4 linked regions of the Homo sapiens genome follow. The protein of the gene in region 2 purifies or fractionates together with the protein of the main gene of each other region. This does not show direct contact. Each region holds a gene or a part of one and is shown on either strand. Other genes may lie near its edges.

What was found.
Region 1: the proteins of AFG1L (region 2) and STARD7 purify together in Homo sapiens (co-immunoprecipitation; one large-scale study listed by IntAct). This does not show direct contact.
Region 3: the proteins of AFG1L (region 2) and DDAH1 purify together in Homo sapiens (affinity purification with mass spectrometry, with the first as the bait; one large-scale study listed by BioGRID). This does not show direct contact.
Region 4: the proteins of AFG1L (region 2) and WDR13 fractionate together in Homo sapiens (co-fractionation; one large-scale study listed by BioGRID). This does not show direct contact.

The regions. Positions count from the first base shown.
Region 1 is NC_000002.12:96,184,018-96,188,678, forward strand, and holds the end of STARD7 (stAR-related lipid transfer protein 7, mitochondrial isoform 1 precursor), read right to left. Parts: intron 3,285-4,661; coding exon 3,200-3,284; intron 2,898-3,199; coding exon 2,713-2,897; 3' UTR 842-2,712; downstream 1-841. UniProt on the Homo sapiens protein: May play a protective role in mucosal tissues by preventing exaggerated allergic responses.
Region 2 is NC_000006.12:108,321,674-108,326,334, reverse strand, and holds part of AFG1L (AFG1-like ATPase), read right to left. Parts: intron 2,511-4,661; coding exon 2,287-2,510; intron 1-2,286. UniProt on the Homo sapiens protein: Putative mitochondrial ATPase. Plays a role in mitochondrial morphology and mitochondrial protein metabolism.
Region 3 is NC_000001.11:85,461,786-85,466,878, reverse strand, and holds the start of DDAH1 (N(G),N(G)-dimethylarginine dimethylaminohydrolase 1), read left to right. Parts: upstream 1-1,719; 5' UTR 1,720-1,833; coding exon 1,834-2,136; intron 2,137-2,279; exon of another isoform or gene 2,280-2,359; coding exon of another isoform or gene 2,360-2,383; intron 2,384-5,093. UniProt on the Homo sapiens protein: Hydrolyzes N(G),N(G)-dimethyl-L-arginine (ADMA) and N(G)-monomethyl-L-arginine (MMA) which act as inhibitors of NOS. Has therefore a role in the regulation of nitric oxide generation.
Region 4 is NC_000023.11:48,600,125-48,604,785, reverse strand, and holds part of WDR13 (WD repeat-containing protein 13), read right to left. Parts: intron 4,468-4,661; coding exon 4,160-4,467; intron 3,003-4,159; coding exon 2,822-3,002; intron 2,722-2,821; coding exon 2,580-2,721; intron 515-2,579; coding exon 396-514; intron 1-395.

The sequences.
Region 1 (4,661 bases), on a different chromosome or scaffold from region 2:
CTACTAAAAATACAAAAATTAGCCAGGTTTGGTGGCACACACCTGTAGTCCCAGATACTAGGGAGGCTGAGACAGGAGAATTGCTCGAACCCGGGAGGTAGAGGTTGCAGTGAGCCGAGGTCTCGTCACTGGACTCCAGCCTAGGCGAGAGTGAGACTCCGTCTCAAAAAAAAAAAAATTAGAGAGGTAAAACACAAATGAGGTTGAAAGAGAATAAAGAGCAGAGTGTGAGGCAGAGCCAGGATGGCCGATGGAAGGGCTGCGGCTTGCAAGCATGAGATGGGGCGTGCGGTTCTCTGGAATCAGATGGTACACCACACAGGGACGTGTGCCTTGTGTGTTCCTATGCAGCTCAGTTCAACTGGGTGTGCTTTTGTGTTCACCTAGTGCTTCCCACAGGCAAAATTACACATAAACTCATGTTATGCTCAGAGCATGCCAGCAGGACTGCCCCTCCGCCAAGAGCGCTGACTTGACCCTCTCCTCAACCTCAACCCTAGACCTCAGGCCTGCTTCTGTCCCTCCTGATTTCTACCGTCTGCTAAGCTCTAGCACTGCTCCCTCCAAAGTGATCTTTTTTTAAAGGGAAAGGATATGGGTCAGTATATCAAGCTAGGGAAGTGGACATAGGTGGTTTATTTTCAGTTGCCAAGCAGGTCACTTGGAAAGGGCTCGTGGTCTAGGCAAACTGTGTCAGCCACTATCTACCAAGAATGAACAAGCCCTGCCACTTCCACCTCCCAACTCTCAGAGTAAAATTCTTTTCAACTTTGTGATCAGAAAGAAATGGTAAGTCCAATATGCAAGATTTTTCCACCACCATTTGTCCAAAGACAAACACTTTTTTTTGTACCAATCTTTATGTATTTATTCACACATTTGATAAAAATGTCACAGTTAGGAGTGAAATCATTACAATGACATGAGTAACTGTACAGACAGACCCCAAGTGCAGAATCAAATTGCCCTAAGTCAGAACATGGAGCAACCGCAACTCCTTCGCACTTGTGCATGTGTGTGCGCTCGCAGACGCACACACACACACACATATTCTCTCTCTCTCTTATGCACACATCCATCCACATCCCAACAATTGCAGGTGCTAAGTTTGGACATAACCCAGGGACTCTTCCCTGACTTCTGTCAGGTCCTGGAAAGAAGAAGTAATAAATGAAAAGCAGCTGGGACTGCTCGATGCATCTCTCCTCTTCCAACAATGACGCGGAGAAGGCAAGACATACACTGGGGCAGCTACTTCCTTGGCACAAAAATGAACAGGCAACAAGAAGGTCAAGGAAGTGTTTAAGTTAGTCTCAGGTTTAAACCACTTTTCAACACCACAAAACAGTAGCAAGCAGGAAAACAAAAACAAAAACAAAAACAAAAACTCTGGCCCTCAAGACTCCAGAAAAAAGGGAAGGAGGAGGATTTAAAACTTGATCCCTATTATTCTAACAAATTGCAGCATGACCATAAGCAAAACCAGCTCGGTCAAACTGACAGCATCAGATTGTGACCTTATCTGAACAGTGTAGTTCACTTTTATTTTGGCTCTGAAGAGAGGAAGAAAAACTTTTTAGAGGAACTTAATGGTAACATAAACCAAATCTCCACTGTATTAGTATTTGAGACAAGATTACATCTATGCATTCACACAGCTTGTCTGTAGATCTGAGAGCTCCAAGGGAGTGGCCCAGCCCCCATTCCTCTGACTTTAGCCTTCTGAAAAGAACAAGTCAAACCTGAAATATGAAAAATAATACCTGAATCAAAATGGTGTTTTCTATACAATCGGACTAGGGTAGAATCCTGCTCAATTCCTCAACTCCTATTTGACACAAAAGTTAAAAAATTTTTAAACTAAATTTAAATGTGATGTTTTGAGCATCAAAAAGCTACTATCTAAAAGGATTAGTCTCCCAGTGTTCTTGGTAAATGGGGAAGGTTAGGAAGGAGGCAATGATCCAATGAATATAGAAGAACTGGCCGATTCACAGGAAACTTGCTTTGGATAAGGTGAGTCAATGGGTGATATTGTGCAGGCAGGGAGGGAAATTTCTTTGTACAAATTCATGTCCCTGGCCAGGCATGGCCCAGGAGTTCAAGACCAGCCTGGGAAACAGAGTGAAACTCCATCTCTACTTAAAAAAAAAAAAAATTAATAATAACTTCATGTCTCTAGAGATAAAAGCAAGGTGCGGACAAGGCACTTAACATAGCCAAGTATCGTTCACACCCATTCACATCATGATTGTTACCAAGAGCACTCCCAGTAGCCCCTCATTTGAGAGACTCAACTGGCCAACTATACTTTCCAGGTGGACCTGGAGAACTGAAGGAAATCCAAAGCGCTGCACAATCGATGGTGGGATTTGGAATGTCAGCAGAGGAAACTACTCAGAGAAGCAAATGGAGGTCATCCCCTTCTGGCCTGAGGTGAGAGGTTTGTTCCAGATTAGCTCAGTGAGATACCGAATTTCAAAACAGTTGGCCTGAGAATATGACAACACTCCCACAAATGTAGCCTTCTTCTGTTTTGATAAGAGCAATAAGGGCTCTGAATGAAATGGGACATCAGTTATTGAATTATCTTGCACTGGAAGTTACAGCAGATGCCTTCTAATACATGTGGCATGTCCCCCTTCTACAGCAGAGTGATAACGGACTGAGACAGGGCTAGAAGCACCTTGTCCCTTCTTATCCCAAAGCCTGTCAAGCATACTCAATCCGAGCAGGGCCACAGCTGCCCTCGTTCTTTCGCTCAGAGGACTGGCTGGTGGCCTTGGCTTCACTACTCATTTCCAGAGGCTTAGCTGAGATGTAGTCCTTTACTTTAATCTCCATATTCTTGGCTTTCAGAGTGGCCATGTGCAGCTTCTCCAGGAAATCTGGCATGCCTGTCAGGAGACGAGAATCAGGTTAAGCTGACATACAAACCAACAGTAGGCTCAAAATGAGAAGACCCTATTTCTTTGATGGTAGGGAACTAGTTCTTCCTTATAAAGATCACAACCTGACTAGCCTGTGAATAAGAGCTGCCTCCCGGAATGTGTTCCCAAAGCATGGGTTGTGAAAACTCTGTCTCAGAAAAAAAAAAAAAAGAAGAACCAGAAGAGACGTTTTATTTCCCCATTAGGAAATAGAGAAAAACAAAATGCTCAACCCAGGTTCCAGGCCCTGTATACTTGCCCTTACTTACCACTGGAAACCATCCAACTAACACAGTAGCGAGGAAACACCGTTTGGGGATTGTCACTGTATGTTAGTAAGTAGTCAAAGCCATTCTGGAAAAGAAAAACAGCAAAAATGAAGATCCCTGAATCACCAACCACAACCTCCATATCCAGTACCATAGAATAACTATGATCTGATTCTGGAGCAGGGAGTGTCATTTCTTTTTTCACCCTGTGCAGAAAAGAGTTAACACTGAAGGCCTGAGAGACTACTATCTATAGAAAGGTCTCCTTGCAATGTTGACCCTTGGCCAACTTCGCTCCCAGTCAACAGTTAGCTGATATGGGTGGCTCCCTGTGCATAGACTATGCAAACAACGTGGTTTATGCTGAACACAGGCTTTGCTTTGCAGGGTTTGGAATTCTGGTATGTGCTAAGCAGACGGTACTAAGTGACCAGCTCCCAATAAAAATTTTGGGTGTTAGGCCAGGCATGGTGGCTCATGCCTACAATCCCAGCACTTTGGGAGGCCGAGGCAGGCGGATCACCTGAGGTCAAGAGTTCAAGACAAGCCTGGCCAACATGGTGAAACCCCATCTCTACCAAAAATACAAAAATTAACCGGCCATACTGGCACACACCTGTAGTCCCAGCTACTCGGGAGGCTGAGGCACAAGAATTGCTTGAACCCGGGAGGCAGAGGTTGCAGTGAGCCAAGATCTAGCCACTGCATTCCAGCCTGGGAAACAGAGCGAGACTCCGTCTCAAAAAATAAATAAATAAATAAATAAATTGGGTGTTGGCTGGGCGTGGTGGCTCATGCCTTATAATCCCAGCACTTTGGGAGCCCAAGGCAGGCAGATTACTTGAGGACCAGAGTTCGAGACCAGCCTGGCCAACATGGTGAAATCCCATCTCTACTGAAAGTTAAAAAATTAGCTGGGCGTGGTGGTACACGCCTGTAATCCCAGTTACTTGGGAGTCTGAGGCAGGAGAATCGTTTGAACCGGGAGGCAGAGGTTGCAGTGAGCACAGATTGAGCCACTGTACTCCAGCCTGGGTGACAGACCAAGACTTTTTTTTTTTTTTTTTTTTTTTTTTGAGACAGAGTTTCGTTCTTGTTGCCCAGGATGGAGGGCAATGGCACAATCTCGGCTCACCACAACCTCCACCTCCTGAGTTCAAGTGATTCTCCTGCCTCAGCCTCCCCAGTAGCTGAGATTACAGGCATGCACCACCATGCCCAGCTAATTTTGTATTTTCAGTAGAAACGGGGCTTCTCCATCTTGGTCAGGCTGGTCTCGAACTCCCGACCTCAAGTGATCCACCCACCTTGGCCTCCCAAAGTGCTGGGATTACAAGCGTGTGCCACTGCACCCAGCCAAGACTCCGTCTTTAAAAAACACTTTGGGCTGGGTGTGGTGGCTCACGTCTGTAATCTCAGCACTTTGGGAGGCTGAGGCAGATGGATCACCTGAGGTCAGGAG
Region 2 (4,661 bases):
CTTTAGAGGCTGAGGCAGGAGGATTGCTTAAGACCAGAAGTTCAAGACCAGCCTGGCAACAGAGTAAGGTCCTGTCTCTACAAAAAAATTAAAAAATTAGTGGAGCATGGTGATGCATGCCTGTAGCCCTAGCCTACTCAGGGGGCTGCGGGAGGAGAATCACTTGGGCCCAGGACTTCAAGGCTACTAGTGAGCTATGATTGTGCTACTGCACCCCACCTGGGTGACAGAATGAGACAGTATCTCCAAAAAAAAATAGGCCAGGCACAGTGGCTCATGTCTGTAATCCCAGCACTTTGGGAGGCCGAAGCAGGGGGATCATTTGAGATCAGGAGTTCAAGACAAGCCCGGCCAGTATGGCAAAACCCCATCTCTACTAAAAATACAAAAATTAGCCAGGCATGGTGGCAGGTGCCTGTAATCCCAGCTATTTGGGAGGCAGGAGAATCGTTTGAACCTGGGAGGCGGAGGCTACAGTGAGCCAAGATATCACACTACTGCACTTCAGCCCGGGAGACAGAGTAACACTCTGTCTCAAATAAATAAATAGGTCAGGTGCAGTGGCTTATGCCTGTAATCCCAGCACTTTGGGAGGCCGAGGTGGGCGGATCACCTGAGGTCAGGAGTTCGAGACCAGCCTGACAAACATGGTGAAACCCCATCTCTACTAAAAGCACAAAAATTAGCTAGGTGTGGTGGTGTGTGCCTGTAATCCCAGCTACTCAGGAGGCTGAAGCAGGAGGACTGCTTGAACCTGGGAGGTGGAGGTTGCAGTGAGCCAAGATCACACCACTGCCCTCTAGCCTGGGCAATAGAGCAAAAATCCATCTATAAATAAATAAATAAATACACACTAGTCACATCCATGCAGGAATTAGGTTTAAAAAAAAAAAAAAGGCAAAACAGCCCTAAAACCAAAGTGAAACTGAAGAAAGTGATCAAGGTAGAAAGTTAGCTGGGTAGAGTGCCATGGTGTGCCCTTCAGATATCTCGTAACAAATACGAGGGGTTCCCAAGAGAAGCATCCAAAGAGATGAGGATTGAATATAAATTGAGATGGACATCGCTCTCCCCAGCTGGATGCTTGCCTAGGTAAGGAAATGCACAAGCAGCTGCCAGAGCAGAGTGTGGAAGAGTTCATGGGAGAACTTGATATAAGTCCCCAGGAGAAAGGGGTATGCATGACAAAGACAGAAACCAGTGCCTGCTTCTTGCTTGCAGAAGTCTGAGGACAGGAGGCTGACTGAGGCTGCCCATGCAGCAAGGGGTGGCGAAAGGAGATGTTATGTTTCCTGTGGCCTGCACGGACACCATAAAAGATGACCCAATAAGAAATGTCCCAGGCCAGGCACAGTGGCTCACACCTGTAATCCCAGCACTTTGGGTGGCCGAGACAGGTGGATCACTTGAGGTCAGGAGTTCAAGACCAGCCTGGCCAACATGGTGAAACCCCGTCTCTACTAAAAATACAAAAATTAGCTGAGTGTGGTGGTCCACGCTTGTTACCCAGTTACTTGGGAGGCTGAGGCAGGACGATCGCTTGAATCCAGGAGGCAAAGGTTGCCAGGAGCCAAGATATCGTGCCACTGCACTCCAGCCCAAGTGACAGAGCGAGACTCTGTCTCAAAAAAAAAAAAAAAAAGTCCTGAAAGGACCCCACCCAAGAAGGCTAAGGGCAAGAGCAAGGCGGTGTCGGCAGAATGCAGGGTTGTGAGTTGCTTCCCCAGAGTCATAAGAGGTTAGTCAAAGACTGGAGAAGTGTGGAGGTCCCCATGGGAGTCTTGAAGAACCCACCAATAAGACCCTCAACAAAGAGCTAGCACGTCAGCATCTACCATACAAAGGCCCCAGTAACTAACTGGTCACTTAAGGCTGCTGTTTCACTCTAATCTTTCATTCTTCTCATTCTGACCCTAGAGATGTCAGGCAAACAGAGAAAGAAGGAGGAAGAAAAGGGAAAGAACACATCACTCCTCCTTTTCCACTGCTGATCCCTGGATGAGGCCTGAGCTAGAGGAAAGGGAAAGCTTTAATTTCCATAGAAGTTTTTATTTAGACTGGACTGCATTTTTTAAATACCTAAATATGAAGCTATTCAAACCCCTGAAGGCAAAAGAAAGCTATGGAACATCAAAAGGCCAGGAATGGGGATCCAACAGAATTTGTGTAAAGGAACTGGTGAAAATTTTTCAAGATGTTTCATGATTGTGTCCTACTGCATTGCATCCATTTTAGAAAATGCTTACACTTTTAACTGTTTAATCTTTCATATCACACAAGCCTCACCTTTGAAAAAAGGCCTTCTGCCTCTATATTGTATCCTTTAAGGTCCTCGTGTAATTTCTGCAAACACTGTATGACTCTTCTTTGATGTTCATCATCCTTTAGCTCATGAGCTTTGATCAGAAAATCATAGTGGTCCAGAGGTCCATGGCAAACGGCCAAAGCTTTCAAATAAGTCTCTGAAGTGGCAGTTGGGGTCATGCTCTCGGATGTCTGAACCGTATAGGCTATAAACAAAAACATAAAATTTTAGACTTTCTTAAATACATTTTCACAGTGCTCTACACATTTCTTAAGGGTCAAATTCAAACTTTTAACTAGTTACAAGTATATCTATTGGAGCAGTTTTTGTAAATGTCATTTTGATAAAAATAATATAAAATACATTTTCAGCCAGGCATGGTGGCTCACGCCTGTAATTCCAGCACTTTGGGAGACCAAGGCAGGCAGATCACTTGAGGTCAGGAGTTCAAGATCATCCTGGCCAAATGGTGAAACCACATCTCTACTAAAAACACAAAAATTAGCTGGGCATGGTGGTGCATGCTTGTAATCCCAGCTACCTGGGGGGCTGAGGCACGAATTGCTTGAACCTGGGAGGCAGGGGATGAAGTGAGCAGAGATTGTGCCACTGTACTCCAGCCTGGGTGACAGAGTGACACTCGGTCTCAAAAAAAAAATAATTAAACAATGAATATATTTCTAATTGTTTTATTTTAACAAAAGGAAACAAACCCCAAACCCATAAACTATAATTGTAACCTCTCTTCCAGAAGGCCTATTCCTACTACAGCTTCTGCTTTGCTTCCAGTCCACTGAAGGAGACACTGGGGTTCCTCATCTCCTTCCCAAAGCAAGAGAGTTGCCTTTCTTTGAGTAAACCCTAATTCTGGTTCTTAAGCACCAAGACAAAGACGTGAAGACTAGTCCCAAGGGTTTTCCACTGTTCCTTAATTCTCTACTCAAAGACAACATAACATTCAGATATTACCACATCGATTTCAGCCCTCTGCTTCTGAGATCTTTTTCTGTTTTCCATAACCTTTACGGAGTTGGACATGGAATTGAGACACAGCAAGAGTGTCTGCTTCAAAGCAGGGTGGTGTTCTGATCCTATTTTTGGCCTCTCCTGGGAGAGAAATGATTGTGGCGAGGTCCAACCATAATTCCATTCCTTATGTGGGGCAGGTTTAATAAGCAGCTAACTCCTTCTCTACTGTTTAGAAGCAACAATAAACAGCAGCAACCTGGCACATTTTTCAGAACAAGATTTCCCAAAGGTACTCTGCCAGCATTTTATTCATTTCATTGAACATCATGTTTCCTTTGTCACAATAACATAAAAATTACTTTAGCAAAAAGAATTAACAATCACAATGTTAGGTCCATGTTTTCCCCAAAAGAGGGGGAAAAGTCCTTAAATATATCATGAATGTTGGAGATAGGGACGGCTGTCTTCCATTATTTGTTCCACCTTTCTAAATAGAAGTTTTAGCTGGATGCATGGCTGCCCAGACACATATTACATCTCCTGGCCTCTCTTGCAGTCAGGTATGGCCATGTGAGCAGGTTCTAACAATGGGATATGAGCAGAAACGTGTGTAGTTCTGACATACCCCATTAAAGGAAAAGGGCATATCCTCCTGGCTCCCTTTTCCTCCCTTCTCTCTAACTGGAGTGAAAGTGTAATGACTGCAGCTGGAAGAGGCAATGAGATGCACACAGAATGTTGAATGAAGCAGAGCAACAAGATACACAAAGCCTGGTTCTCCAACAATGCTGAGCTGCCAAACCAGCTTTGGATTGCCTACCTGGATTTTTATGTAAAAGAATAATAAACTTCCGGCCAGGCACAGTGGCTCACACCTGTAATCCTAGCACTTTGGGAGGCTGAGACAGGCAGATCACTTGAGCTCAGGAGTTCGAGACCAGCCTGGGCAACATAGTAGGACCTCATCTCTACTAAAAATAACAAATTTAAAAAAAATTTGTTTTTAATTAGCCAGGCTTAAAATTAGCATGTGCCTGTAGTCCCAGCTACTTGGGGAGGCTGAGGTAGGAGGACGGCTTAAGCCCAGGAGTTTGAGGCTGCAGTGAGCTATGACCTACACCACTGCACTCCAGCCCGGGCAACAGAGTGAGACTCTCTCTCCAAAAGAAATTAAAAGGGAGTAATAAACTTCTATCTTGCTTTTAAAGTAGTGTATAATTGGGGTCTCTGTTACAGAAGCCTAAGTTGTACCCTAACTGATATAGTTGCTTAAGGCCTGTAAAACAGAATCTAAGGGTATCCTGGAACACTAGGCCTCACAGTACCAGGATAAGGTTTGGGTTCAATGTTGAAGCTGGAGATGCAGGTTGAGAGTTCCTAAATGTTC
Region 3 (5,093 bases), on a different chromosome or scaffold from region 2:
GAAACAAGAGCGAAACTCCATCTCAAAAAAAAAAAAAAAAAAAAAAGAATAAATAATGAACTAATTTAAAAATAAATAAATTTTATATTTAACCAGGGCAAGCTTAAGGTAAAAGATCAACTTTCACCTGTAACTTTGATGGAAATCCTCCATCTGAGGACACCATTAAGTGATTTCTGACGCTAAACTGGGGCTAATGGGGCTGCCTGGATCCCCTAAGAATTTTGCTTTAGAAGTACTACCTAGTCGGTCTTAAAGGTTTGTTATTTTACTTTTGGTCCCACTTCCCAATGTCAGTGTCAGAGCTGTCCTTGAGACTCCTCAAATTTGGGCAGGGCGTGGTAGCTCATGCCTGTAATCCCAGCACTTTGGGAGGTGGAGGCGGGTGGATCACCTGAGGTCAGGAGTTCGAGACCAGCCTAGCCAACATGGTGAAACCCTGTCTCTGCTAAAAATACAAATTAGCCGCGAGTGGTGGCGTGCACCTGTAGTCCCAGCTACTCAGGAGGCTGAGGCAGGAGAATTGCTTGAACTGGGGAGGCAGCAGTTGAAGTAAGCCGAGATCGTGCCACTGCACTCCAGCCTGGGCAACAAGAGTGAAACTCCGTCAAAACAAAACAACAACAAAAAACAAAAAAAACTCCTCAAATGTGAAGCTGAGAATTTTGAAGCTCATTTATAAATTCACACCACCCTTGTGGGAGGGGAGAGAAGGCAGATCACATCTCTGGGCTCAGTTGGGGCAACCATTCTAGGATGCTCAGAGAGACCTGCTCCTAGAAATCCAGAGTTTCCTAAAAGCTGGGATCAGAGTTCTGGCAAGAAGGCTGTAGCCTGGGCCTTGGCCCTAGACCACCAAAAAAGTGAATACAGGCTTAGGCAGTGTTCATAGAGGCCCAGCATCTGGAACAAGGGTGCTGCTGTAGTCTGTGCTGGTCAGACCACACAGGAAGAATTGTTTATTTTCCGGATACTATGATTTTAAAAGGATACAAGCAAATTGGTGTGTATCAAAAGGAAGCTGACCAGAATGTTGAAGGGACTTGGAAACCAAATCACTAGTTACTTTTCAGTGGTTTGGGCTCCAGGACTGGAGGGGGTTTAGGGTGGGGGGTAGAGGATGGTGTTAGGCAGCATAGATAATTAGAACTGTTTTCAGATATGCAAATGCTGTTTTGTGAAAACACACACACACGCGAACACACACAAAACAAGAAAAACTTGTACTTTAGGTAAGGCCAGAAAACAGAACTGGGACCCGTGGGATTTAAGCTCAACATGAAGAATCTGTAAACCATTATAGCTCTTCAAAAGTGGGCTAGACTTTGTAAGCACGCAAGGTTTAAACTGTTCAGGTAAAGACCAGGAAGCCCTCCAGCTGCTCTGTCCAGACCGAGGCCGGCTCTCCAAGTCCGCGCTGGGGACGATGGGAGGTGTGCACCTGCGACAGAACACAGGTACCGCCAGGTCCGGGTAGCGGTGGCTTTTCGCCGAGGTCCCCCGCCTCCGCATACTTCTTGCCCTCGCTGCTTCCCCGGCCGCCTCTCCTGGCCCCACTCCTCGCCCGGCGCTCGCCGCTACAACTCCCGCCTGGGCTGGCGCGAGACCCGCGAGCGCCGGAGTGGGCGCGCGGGATGCGCGCGGGCCGGCGCCCGGAGCTCTGGGCATGCTCAGTCGCGCGGGCAGGGCTCCGGGCGCGAGCTGGGCTCCTTCTGCACCACATTCAGCGGCTGCCAAGAGGAGCCGACGGGCGCTCGCAGGCTCAGCGCGCGCTGCCCGCGGCAGGACCCGGCCGCCTCCGCCGCCGCCGCCGCCCCTAAGCCTCCCGAAGCCATGGCCGGGCTCGGCCACCCCGCCGCCTTCGGCCGGGCCACCCACGCCGTGGTGCGGGCGCTACCCGAGTCGCTCGGCCAGCACGCGCTGAGAAGCGCCAAGGGCGAGGAGGTGGACGTCGCCCGCGCGGAACGGCAGCACCAGCTCTACGTGGGCGTGCTGGGCAGCAAGCTGGGGCTGCAGGTGGTGGAGCTGCCGGCCGACGAGAGCCTTCCGGACTGCGTCTTCGTGGAGGACGTGGCCGTGGTGTGCGAGGAGACGGCCCTCATCACCCGACCCGGGGCGCCGAGCCGGAGGAAGGAGGTAACTGCCGACTCGAGGGGCGCGGCCGGGGCGCGCGCCAGGCCCTCCCCCGCCGCCGGCCGCCGTGTTGCCTGGGGAGTCGCGCCATTGGCCCTCGGGCTAGTAGTTCACAACTTCCCGTCGGGGGGCGAGTGTGTGTGTGTGTGTGTGTGTCAGAGAGTCAGAGAGAAGTTCATTGTTCACACCTCCCGGCTGCCGGCAGCCTTCTGGAGGATCCGATTCAATGTGGTTGTACGGTCTCGGGCAGGTGGGTGGGCGGGGGATTCCGTCTCACGGGCATTTTTATTTGTGAAAATTAAACGGCAGCGACGACAGTGCAACTCTGAGTGTTTCCCAGGGAGCGAGGGCCGCGAGGGGTGCCGCTCCGGTAGGGCGGGTGGAGGCTGGGCGTCCCTCCAGGGGGCAGCGCCAGTCGTGACACCGAAGCCCCCAAGTCCTGCCTGGCGCTCGGAGCAGGACAAGCTGGATGAATTAACGGGGTGTCGGTGCCCACAGACCTGGGGCTTCTCAAGTTAGTTTTCAGTGGTGGCGAGTGAGTCCCAAAGAACGGGACTAGTAAGTGAATGAATGGAAGGAAAAGTGTTTTGTTGGTGAGCTGTGCTAAATGTGTGCATGAATGGGCTAGGTTTGAAAAGCTGTACTCTGTGCGGTGTTGGGTGTGTGTGCTAGCGAGCGTGTTTAATTAGAGATGGTTGTTTCACAAATTCCATAATTTTTATTCTCTATATTTTTAAACTCACAGCAATTAAGAGAGTTTTTCTGTTCTCAAGGGTTGTAACTACTTTGAAATACTGCAGCTTGTGAAATGGCTGATTGCTTTAAGTGCAATGTAGGTTAGTGGGGAGAGACAAATAGAGTGAGATTGGATTTTAAAATGCCATCTGGCCTGGGATTCTTCTCATTGCCAGTTAAGAGCCCAGGCTCAAGACTCCGTTGCTATTGGCATCCAGTGGCATTGCAAGAAGCTAGTGGTTTCTTTCATTTCTGGAGATTTAAGAATTTTTTTTCTATTTTGTCTGTATTCACTTCACATTGGAAATGCCTCATAGAGCTTATGATAAAATATGCTTATTCCTCACCTGCTCCACTACTTGGTTGATGGAATGCCACATGGTCTGAGAAAATAAGCATATTCTACTAATTTCTCATCGAGATAATCAGCTTTTATTTCACCCTCCATTAACAGAAAACCAAAAGAGTAACAGATCTCTGCTAGCCCTTTGATGTCTTTGCCACACCTCTCCATCTTTGAGTCTGTGAGATGTCCCACTCTTTTAAACTGATAAGGAATGTAATCCCATTTGAATACTTTCTAATGCGTTCTAGGCCAAATGGCAGAGCTATGGTTTGAACTTAAAAGAGCAAAATCGATTTCAAAACCCTTTCAAAATGGCACTCTTTTGATGAGAGTAGTCCAATTTCTTCTCAAGAGACTGTCACCATATTTATTCACCCATTTCATTTTATTCCTATAATAAAAGCTTCCAAGCTTTGGCCTCCCTGATACCTAAGTGAGCAGTGATCTTTTTCCCCTGCCTAGATTTTGAAGCATACATTTTAAATTGGTTTAATTCTGATATCAGCCTGGTGGCCCACTGCCAGAAGTCACATGGTGTAGTGGATAAAAACATTAGACTGAATCTCAGCTCTACCACTTTCTAATTCTGTGACCTTTAGGGAGTGTCTCTTGCCTCAGTTTTCGCATCTATACAGTGGACATAATAATACCTGTTTCACAAAGTTGTTGTAATAGATGTATTAATCTACCTGAAATTCACAGGACAGGACATTTGATGAATGTTGACTATTATTATTCACTTAACTATGGATCAGGGAAGATTTACTCCGTTAATAAGAAGTCAGCTATACACTGATGTAGTTAGTGACATCTCTCTACTATGTGATACTGCCTCTGGGTTTGGGTCTCCTGCTGGTGCCTGCCTTTGCATTGCACATGATCTGGGTCACCAGGGTAACAGGCCTCCCAGGCAGGGAGAGGAATATGGGCAGTCAGTGTTGGATGGGATGCTTCTGGAGGGCAGAGTCATGTAGGGCAATGCTTGTAGAAATCTCTCACGGCACCAGCTCACCGCCTTGGTAGGTGTTAATGCTTGTTGAGTGAGTGGATGAATGAATGAATGATGAATGAAATGCTAATACAAGAAGATAGTTACTTCAAGACCCTCTATGGATTGCTGTATATTTTTTTCATGTGATGTCTGCATTCCCAACTGTGAAAATCCACAGTAGCCAAGGAATTATTTTAAAATTATTGTCACTGATCTCTGCCTCTAGTCTTGTCAATTTTCCATTCCATTCCCACACTGTAGCCAAGCTGGTCTTTTAAAAACTCAGATCTGATCCTGTCCCTTCTCTGACTAAAATTCTCAAGGGGCCCCCACTGAGCTTAGATAAACCCATTGAGCTGGGCTGTGCTTGCCTTTCCAGCTTCAGCTTCACCTCTGATCCCACCCCAAGCATCCCCTGATCCATGGATCGAGCGAGGTTCTTTCACTGAAGCTCACCAGACTATTGCTTTTATTTTGTCCGGGTACTCTTCCTCTTTCCTCTCTTCCCTTTTATCTGTCTTAAGTTCTCAGCTTACTGTTATCACTATTATTAGCTAATATTTATTGGGTACTTGCCACTTGCCATACACCATACCAGATTTATGATGTGCATTTCATTAATACTCACATCAACTCTTTGAACTCAATACTATCATAATTCCTATTTTAAAGTTGGTGAAACTGAGGCCTGGAGAGATTAAATAAATTGGCCAGGGTTATAGAGTGTAACCTGTAAAACCAGGATTTGAACTCGGGTTTAGAGAACTCCAAAGCTCTAGTCCCACTTAGACATCACTTTTCCAAGCATGGAATTGGTTCTCCTTTTATGAGCTCCTAAAACGCTATAAACTTCCTTTTATATATATCATACCACGTGATAATTGCCTG
Region 4 (4,661 bases), on a different chromosome or scaffold from region 2:
TGAGGTGTCTGAGGTGTTGAAGGGTGTATGTCCGAGGTGTGAGGTCCTAGCATGGCTTGGGGAGGTTTGAGGGGGCCCCATCCCTAGATGGGAGGTCACCTGGCTGTTTTGGTACTGTGTGCAGAATGCGAGGTCTCTGGGCTGTTTGGGGAGTTAGTGCGTTCAAAGTGTGAGTTTTCATCACTTCTCGGCCTTTTGGCCGAGATCAAGTGCAAACTGTGAGTTCTCTGAGCTGTTTGGAGCTGTGAGTTCCACAGTGAGGCTGTTGGGGCAGGAGGGGTCATGAGGTCCAGGAAGTCAGGGCATCGGTGTCGTGATGTCTGAGCCAGGTTGGCACCAGCCCTGGTTCCTGCCCCTCCCCAGCCACCCAGATCCCCTGTCCCTACAGGACTCACCCACGCAGGCCCCCTGGCGGAAGGACATGAGGGGACAGAAGATGCTGCGCACAGGATGTGAGCTCTGCTCGATGGGGAAGCTTCTCTTCAGCTGCAGGGTCCCCTCGTTGTCTACCACCCTGAGAGGATGAGAGAGTGGGTCAAAACACAGCCCCAGCCCTAGCAGGGAGACAAGTTGTGGGCCTGTGTCCCCACCCCTGTGCCTAAGTTCTTTACAGGGTTCATGAAACCCATATTTTTTTTTTTGTTTTTGAGACAGGATCTCACTCTGTCACCCAGGCTGGAGTGTAGTGGTGCGATCACGGCTCACTGCAGCCTCAACCTCCTAGGCTCAAGTGATCCTCCCGCCTCAGTCTCCCGAGTAGCCGGGACTACCTATAGGCACACACCACACCCAGCTTATGAAACCCAATTCTGAGATGACTACATAAACTATAAGTAGGGGCTGATGTGTGAGTTACTGATGGTTCAGAAACTGTCTCTGTTGATATAAATGGGAGCCTCTGCAGTTTCATTCACTAGTTTTTCTTTGTAAGGGTCTCTAAAAGATCCTGGTATTAAGATAAGCACAAAGAGAGGAAATGAACACACCATGGTATGCCCACACTGTGGAAAACTGCACAGCCCTTAGAGAGAATAAAACACTGTCCCCACAGGTAACCTGGGGGGGTTTCCACAAGGCATTGCCTGGTGAGAAACTCGAAATGTAGGAAAGGCCATTTCTTTTTTCTTTCTTTTTTTAAGAGATGGAGTCTGGCTCTGTCACCCAGGCTGGAGTGCAATGGCACGATCTCGCCTCGCTGCAACCTCCGCCTCCCAAGTTCAAGCAATTCTCCAGCCTCAGCCTCCCAAGTAGCTGGGATTATAGGCGCCTGCCACCATGCCCAGCTAATTTTTGTATTTTTAGTAGAGACGGGGATTCACCATGTTGGCCAGGCTGGTCTTGAACTCCTGACCTCAGGTGATCCACCCGCCTTGGCCTCCCAAAGTGCTGAGATTACAGGAGTGCGCCACTGTGCCTGGCCGGAAAAGGCCATTTCTTTAAAACGTCTTTCTTTCAAAACTGTGGTGGGAGCTAGGCAAGGTGGCTCACGTCTGTAATCCCAGCACTTTGGGAGGCCAAGGTACAAGGATCACTTGAGGCCAAGAGTTTAAGACCAGACTGAGTAACACAGCAAAACCTCATCTCTACAAAAAATAGATTAAAAAGGTTGGCCGAGCATGGTGGCGTGTGCCTGTAATCTCAGCTACTTAGGCTGAGGTGGGAGAATCGCATGAGCCCAGGAGTTGGAGGTTGCAGTGAGCCATGATCATGCCACTGCACTCCAATCTGGGTAACAGCAAAACCCTGTCTCACAAACAAACAAAAACATACATGGATATATGTACACGCCTAGGATTTGTGGAAAGAGAAGGATATGTGGAAAGATGTGGATCATTAATGGGCTTTACTGTGGCAGGAGGAGGCCAGAGGTGGCAGGAGGAAGAAAGGAGAGGCTGTGGGAAATGGGCAAACTTAAGGGTACGCTTAAATTAAAAAATTGTTAAGTATATATACAGAAATTGTTTAAAAAGGAGGAGAGAAATAAAGGGGTAGAATAAAAAGCATCCTGTTAGGCAGTGGTTTTCAGGACTGGCCAGACATTGCTTAGGGAATTTCTCAATCTACCAATGCCCAGGCCCATCCCAAAGCTTCTGAAATTACTGGCCTGTAGAGGGGCCCAGACAGGAGTTTTTGAAGCTCTTCAGGTCATTCCAATGTGTGGCCCAGGCTGAGAACTGCATTTGGGTAACATGACAGATGTGAGTGGGGACAGTAACCCCCACACTACTCCCCGCAAAAAAAAAAAAAAAAAAAGGAAGGAAGGAAGAAAGGAAAACAGGTCTCTGCTTTAAGTAGCCCTAATCTATTTTATGCTTCAGTTTGCTCACCTGCAAAATGGAGATAATAACAGCACCTACCTCACAGGTCGGTGCAAGGATTGAATGTGGTGATACGTGGAAACTGCTTCGAACAGGGCCTGGCCACAGTGATGGCTGTAAACGCGCTCACTACTGCTATTACTGTTACTGCTACTACTGCTCCCTCAATTAAATTAACCTGATGGAGGAGATGAGCTACTGTCCCAGTGTGCTGGAGGAGGCAGGTCCTCCGTCTCCAGGAGGCCCTGATGGGGGACCCACCTGTAGAGCAGCAACTTGTTGAGGCAAGCATTGATGAGCAGTGAGGGATCCCGGGCCTCGCGGCTGACCCAGGACCGGGCTGAGATGCTGGTCACAGGGCTCCCCTCATGCACCACCAAACGCTTGGCTTTGGTCAGCTTCCCTGCAGCAGCAGAGGGAGGGAAGGCAAAGGTGAGGGTGAGGGCTGTGCCCTGGGAGGGCTGGAGGGCGAGCACCCAGATGCAGGCCTGCTGTCTGCCTACCTGTGGCCATATCAAAGAGGAAAGAGAAGACACTGCCACGGTCATCACCCGCCCAGAGCAGCCGGCCAGGGGCATCAAAGGACAGAGCAAGGACACGGCCTGTCAGCTTGCTGGAGCCCCCCTTCACTTTCTTGCCTGTGGAGATGTTCATGACATGCACGTTGTGCTTGGCGTTCCCCACCTGTGGGGAGAATGCACAGACCATCATCCTGCTTCCAGCCAGGCCCTCCTTGAGTCTGACCACAGTGGGGCTGCTGTTGATGCGACTGGCTGGTCCCTATTAGAGTCTATTCACAATAGGGCTGTGGCAGGTAGACAAGGTGACCAGGCATGAATCCACCTCCCTAGCCAGCCCCTTTTGCAATCTGCCCAGAGTAGGCCACCTGCCTACGGGACTAAAGGGCCTTCAGAGCCATCATGCTGCCCCTTGGCCAGTCCTCCTACAGTGTGAGAACCATAGGGCCTGCCTAGGCCTGTGATCCCAGCTTTCCCCTGCTCCCTGGCTGCTCCTTTCTGGAACTTGTGGGGCTGCTGCTAATGCGGGGAGGATCCCGGCCCACAAGCTCACTCTTGGTCTGTTCCTCTGCAGTTCACCCCACTACACCCCGGGCCACACCAGACTTTCTAATGTCCTTCCCCTGCTCTCTGACCAATCTACCCTGGAGTCTGACACGGTGGGGCCACTGACAGACCAGACGAGGCTCAGCCTCATCATCCTGCTCCTCAGAGGTAGCCCCTGCAGTTGGAAAACTGTAGGACTGTAGCTGATGGGACCAAAGGGGCTCCAGAGCCAGAACCCTGACCCTGGCCCGTGCTCCCTGGAGTGTACCACAGCAAGGCCAACCCAGATCAAGAACGGCATTCCCCTTTTTATGGGGGGTGGGGGCGGAGTCTCGCTCTGTCGCCCAGTGGTGCCATCTCGGCTCACTGCAAGCTCCACCTCCCAGGTTCACACCATTCTCCTGCCTCAGCCTCCCAAGTAGCTGAGACTATAGGCGCCCGCCACCATGCCCGGCTAATTTTTTGTATTTTTAGTAGAGATGGGGTTTCACCGTGTTAGCCAGGATGGTCTCAATCTCCTGACCTCGTGATCCGCCCGCCTCCGCCTCCCAAAGTGCTGGGATTACAGGCGTGAGCCACTGCGCCTGGCCCACTCCCGTCTTCTGATCTGCTTCCCTTTTAAGTCTGACCACACTAGGACTGCTCTGACGAGATTGGGTGGGGGGTGGGGGGGTCCTAGGCCCCCCCTGGCTGTCCCTCCTTATACTCTGATTCCCTCAGATAGCCTTCCTGACCCAGCCCACCAGCCCTTGGTGAGTGGGTGTCCTGGAGCCTGACCACAGTGAGGTTGTTGTTGACAGGCTGGAAGGTGCAGCAGAGCAGTTCAGCGCTATCGGGGTCAGGGATCTCTCGGATGCAGCGACCATCCTCAGAGGCCCAGATGCGCATGGTGGCATCCAGTGAGGTGGACACGAGGATGTCATTGGAGAGGGACCAGGCGAAGTCGGAGACACCACGGGTGTGGCCCCGTAGCACGCGAAGCACTGTGGGTGGGGCAGGCACCAGCTGGCACAGGGAGATGCTGCCGTCGAGTGAGCAGCAGGCCAGGCGGTGTCGGTCATCATTGGCGAAGCGCACCCTTGGGACTGCAATGCCAAGAAGCCATTAGTGGGAATCTGCACACTCACTGGGCACTTTTCTCTCTAAAAGGCTCTGACGTGTGTGCCTGGGGCTGGGGCCCCACTGCATGAGGAACAGTGGCCTCAGCAAAGGGCTTTCCTTGGCTGACAAAGGGAACTGTAACCCCTGAAGACCCTCTGCCAAAGCTCCCTAAGTCTTA